Linked DNA regions of Homo sapiens: region 1 is linked to region 2. The links come from fine-mapping of genetic effects on gene expression. Tissue or cell type: lung. Region 2 holds a variant in brackets; the other region holds the start of a gene. All regions are shown on one strand. Distances are from middle to middle.

Region 1 (2,681 bases), 230 kb after region 2:
TCTCCATGATCTTGGGGGTGTTGTCCTTTGTGCAGTGCTGCATGGTGACCACCACTCTGGTCTTCTGACTGGACACCAAGTCCATGGCACCGCCCATGCCTTTCACCTTCTTGCCAGGGATCATCCAGTTCGCCAGGTCGCCGTATTTGGAAACCTGCATGGCTCCAAGCATGGTTAGTTGGATGTGTCCCCCTCGGATCATGGCGAAGGAGTCGTCGCTGGCGAAGAAGCAGCCCCCGGGAAGCACCGTGACCGTCTGCTTGCCTGCATTGATGAGGTCGGCATCCACCTCATCTTCCGTGGGAAACGGGCCCAGGCCCAGGATCCCGTTCTCACTGTGAAGATGGACAGTCATGCTGGGACTGATGAAGTTGCTGGCCAGCAGGGGGATGCCTATGCCCAGATTGGCGTACATGCCGTCCTCAAATTCCAGAGCTGCGCGTCTGATGATGCGCGTCCTGGCGTCCTCTTCCTTTCCAGCGTCTCCATCTTCCTCTTTCAGGATCGTTAAGCGCTCAATTCGTTTCTCGTATTTCTGCCCCTTTATCACGCGATCTACATAAATGTTAGGAACGTGGATGTCTTCTGGGGGGAAAGCCCCCACCTCCACGATCTCTTCCACCTCCACCGCCGTGACGTCTGCAGCTTTGCACATGGGCACGTTGAAATTGCGGGCGCTTCTCCTGAAGACCACGTTTCCTGCCCGGTCGGCCTTCCACCCTTTCACCAGGGCGAAGTCTGCCCGGATGGCGCGCTCCAAAAGGAAGTGGTCGCCGTTGAACTCCCTCACCTCTCGGGGCTGGCTCATGAGCGCCAGGTGGCCGTCCGGGGTGTAGCGGATGGGGGCGCCCCCTTCCTGGACCAGGGTCCCGTAGCCCGTGGGGGTGTAGAAGGCGGGCACCCCGGCGCCCCCCGCGCGGATGCGCTCGGCCAGGGTGCCCTGGGGCGTGAGCTCCAGCTCCAGCTCTCCTGCCAGGTACTGGCTCTCGCACAGGGTGTTCTCGCCCACGTAGGAACAGACGATGCGACGGACCTGCCTGGCGGCCAGCAGGAGGCCCAGGCCGAAGTCCTCCACGCCCACGTTGCTGCTGACCACCTGCAGGTCTTTCACGCGGGTCCTGAGCAGCGCGGCGATCAGGTTCTCGGGGATCCCGCAGAGCCCGAAGCCCCCGATCATGACGGTCGCCCCGTCAGAGATGTCCTTCACCATCTCCACCGGGTCCGCGTAGAACTTGGCACGGAGCCGGGGACTGGTGGCAAAGCAGCGGGCGCAGCCCTGGGACAGCGCGAGCCCTGAGCCGCCGGCGGGGACCCCGCGCCCGAGCACTGACGCCAGGAGCCGCAGCGCCGCCATAGTCGGCCCGGGTCGGAGGCCAGGACAGGTGGTGTGAGCCCTGCGTGCGCCTCGGGCCGCGCGTCACAGAGCAGGGCGGGCGCCCGCGCCCTGACGCACTCCCTCCCAGCAGGTCTCCCCGGCCAGGCGCAGGCTCTAGGCTAGGCCCGCGACCCGCAACAGGGAGGGGGCCGGCTCCGCCCTGGGCTGGGGGCCCCCGAGTCAGTCCTCCGTGTCCAGCGCACAGGCCCGGGCGCAGGACAGAGCTGAGGTCAGGCTCCGCGAGAAGGGCACAGGCTAGGTCCCCTCCTGCCCCAGTGGAGCCTCAGACACAAACTCCAACCACCCCGCCCAAGCTTCCCCCCAGCTTCCCCAGCTCATTAAAGACACCAAGTGTCCAATGAGCAGGCGCCGCTGGGTGACACCGACGCTCATGAACACCTTCACTGGGCATCACTCTGTGCCAAGCACCCTCCTTTAATCCTGTGACAACCCGGAGAGTGAGTGCCTGCCCCACTACAGCCTCCCAGAGCTCAGGTTCACCCCTCACTGCGACAGTGGGGACAGTATCCCTCACCTCCATCAGGAAGGGTCCCTGCTCTGAAGAGGCCCCCCGTCTTGTCCTCTGCATCCCCCCGCCCTCTCCACCTCCCCCACTCCAGCTCCCTGCTCCAACTTGTGCGGAATTTTGCAGTTTTCTTCCCTCTGCACAGAATCACTGCATCACCACAGCAGCGTGCAGGCGTCTCCTCACCTGGAAAGGACCTGCCTTGTCCCGGGTTCTCTCCAGCCCCAGCCCATGTCTCTGCTCCCCTTCCCCAGCAAAGGTTCTGGAAAGAGCTGTCTCCTGCCTCCACTGCCTGTCTCCCTCCACCTCCTCAGTCAGACCCACACTCCACGGATATTTAGGTCATCAACAACCTCTGTGATGGCAAAACCCTTGGTCACTTCTCTGTTCTTGCCTTCAGTGCCCACAGCAGGACACAAATGACAAACCCTTGCTTCTGGAAACACTTTACTCTGGCGTCTAGATCACCTCATCCTCCAGGTGTCCTGCTCCCTCCCTGGCTGGTCTCTGTGGGCTCTCTGTGGCCCCTCCTTGTGAGGTCTCTGGATGTTGGAGGTCCCAGGGCTCTGGGCCAGGCCCTCTTTCTTCTCCATCACTACCCTCCTTCCCTAGATGACCTGGTCCCATCCCATGCTTTAAATCCACTTACATGCCAGCACCTCCCTCGCCTGGGTCTTCACACTCACCGGTCCCTGTAATGGCATTTCCATGAGGACCAGTGATCTCAGTAACATCCCAGGGGGGTCAGTAATATTCCAGCCAAAAGAGAACCCTTGGCCA
Region 2 (2,681 bases):
GCCACTGCACTCCAGTCTGGTCAACAGAGCAAGACCCCGTCACTACAAAAATAAAAAAAGAAGGACTCTTGACTATATTTGGTCAGGTGTGGTGACTCATGCCTATAATCCCAGCACTTTGAGAAGTGAAGGCAGGCGGATCACTTGAGGCAAGCCTGGGCAACACAGGGAGACCCTGTCTCTACAAAAAATAAAATTAGCTGGGCCTGGTGGCATGCACCTGTAGTCCCAGCTACTTGAAAGGCTGAGACAGGTGGATCACTTGGGCCCAGAGGGTCAAGGCTGCAGTGAGCTGTGATCACATCACTGCACTCCAGGCTGGGTGACAGAGTGAGAACCTGTCTCAAAAAACAAAAAACAAAAGAATTCTTACTCAACAATAGAAAGACAAATAATCCAATTAAAAATTGGTAAAGGGTCTGAAGAGACATTTTTCCAAAGAAGATATAGAGAAGGCCAATAAACACATGAAAAGATGCTCAACATCATTAACTAGCACGGAAATGCCAATCAAAACCACAATGAGATACCACTTCACATCACTAGGATAGGTCTAATAAAAAAAGAAGGATAATCACAAGTGTTGGTGAGGGTATAGAGGCATCAGAAACATCATACACTGCCGTTAAGAATGCAAAATGGGGCAGTGGCTCATGCCTGTAATCCCAGCACGTTGGGAGGCCAAGGCGGGCGGATCACAAGGTCAGGAGATCAAGACCATCCTGGCTAACACGGTGAAACCATGTCTCTACTAAAAATACAAAAAAATTAGCCAGGCGTGGTGGTAGGCGCCTGTAGTCCCAGCTACTCGGGAGGCTGAGGCAGGAGAATGGCGTGAACCCGGGAGGCGGAGCTTGCAGTGGGCTGAGATTGCGCCACTGCACTCCAGCCTGGGCAACAGAGTGAGACTCCATCTCAAAAAAAAAAAAAGAATGCAAAATGGTACAGCCACTTCAAACAGTCTGGTCGTTTCTCAAAACATTAAAAATAGTTATCAGCCAGACACGGTGGCTCATGCCTGTAATCTCAGCACTTTGTGCAGATCACTTGAGGCCAGGAATTCGAGACCAGCTGGCCATCATGGCAAAGCTCCGTCTCTACTAAAAATACAAAAATTAGCCGAGTATGGAGGTGCATGCCTGTAATCCTAGCTAGGGGAGGCTGAGGCAGGAGAATCTCTTGAACCAGGGAGGTGGAGGTTGCAGTGAGCCGAGATTGTG[C/T]CACTGCACTCTAGAGTGAAATTCTGTCTCAAAAAAAAATAAATAAATAGTTATATAACCCAGCATTTCCAATTCTATGGCTACATCTAAGAGAAATGAAAACATATGTCTACACAAAAATTTGTATGTGAATGTTCACAGTGGCATTATTTGTAATAGCCAAAAAGTAGAAACAATCTATCAACTTATGAATGGATAAACAAATGTGGGGTGCAGACAGTGGGTATTAATTGGCAATAAAAAGGAATGATGGGGCCGGAGGCGGTGGCTCACGCCTGTAATCCCAACATTTTGGGAGGCCAAGGTGGGCAGATCACGAGGTCAGGAGATCGAGACCATCCTGGCTAACACGGTGAAACCCCATCTCTACTAAAAATACAAAAAATTAGCCAGGCGTGGTGGCGGGTGCCTGTGGTCCCAGCTGGGAGGCTGAGGCAGGAGAATGGTGTGAACCCAGGAGGCGGAGCTTGCAGTGAGCCGAGACTGCACCACTGCAATCCAGCCTGGGTGACAAAGTGAGACTCCATCTCAAAAAAAAAAAAAAAAAAAAAAACCAAAAACCAAAACAAAAAGAAAAAAAAGGAATGATGTACTGATACATGCTACAACATGGATGAACCTTGAAAACATTATGCTAAGTGAAAGAAGACACTCACAAAAGCCTACATATTGTATGATTCCACTTATATTAAATGCCTAGAATGGGAAAATCCATAAAGACAGAAAGTAAATTCGGGTTTCCCAGGGCAGGGGACCAACAGGATAAGTAGCAACTGCTAAAGGGTATGAAGTTTCCTTTTGGGGGATAAAATGTTCTAAAATTATTTGTGGTGATGGTTGCACAACTCTGTGAATACATTAAAAACCATTAAAATGTGTACTTTAAGTGGGCAAACTGGATGGTATGTAAATAATATCCTACTAAAGCCGTTAAAAAAAAAAGATAATTACACTACAAAATGGCAAAGCCCAGTGACAGAGACATTTGTGCATAGAATGGGAGCACTAGAGTCACCTAAGTGTTTGTGAAAAAGAGAAACAGATACTCACACAAACACTCATCATGAAGGCTTTCTGAAGGAGGTGATGTCTGAGTTCAGTCTAAAAGGCCTGGGGCCAGGCACCGTGGCTCACGCCTGTAATCCCAGCACTTTGGCAGGCCAAGGCAGGAGGATCACTTGAGTCCAGGAATACAAGACCAGCCTGGGCAACAGAGAAAAATCCCATCTCTACAAAAAATTTAAAACTAGCCAGGTGTGGTGGCATGTATCTATAAGTCCCAGCTACTTGGGAGGCTGAGGCAGGAGGATTGCTTGAGCCCAGGAGGTTGAGGCTGCAAGTGAGCCAAGATCATGTCACAGCACTCCAGCTTGGGAGACAGAGCAAGACTCTGCCTCAACAACAACAAAACAAACAAATAAAAAGCCTGGGTTTGCCAGGGGACTAGGGGGCGTAGGATAA

Evidence for each region. PIP is the estimated chance that this variant, and not a neighbour inherited with it, causes the effect.
Region 1: it holds the start of OXCT2, and the variant in region 2 is fine-mapped to the expression of OXCT2 in lung (TOPMed, PIP above 0.99).

The regions. Positions count from the first base shown.
Region 1 is chr1:39,769,902-39,772,582 of GRCh38, forward strand. It overlaps OXCT2 (3-oxoacid CoA-transferase 2), which reads right to left and starts at 1,447. Exons shown (of 1, transcript NM_022120.2): 1 at 1-1,447. The coding sequence starts at 1,354. All of the region lies in intron 3 of BMP8B (bone morphogenetic protein 8b), which reads right to left. RefSeq lists enhancers at 820-1,493, 1,494-2,166 and a silencer at 1,380-1,479.
Region 2 is chr1:39,534,921-39,537,601 of GRCh38, forward strand. It overlaps the pseudogene PPIEL. Among named protein-coding and RNA genes, the nearest start is that of PABPC4-AS1, 29 kb to the right of the region's middle. The variant C/T (reference allele first, on the strand shown) is at 1,221.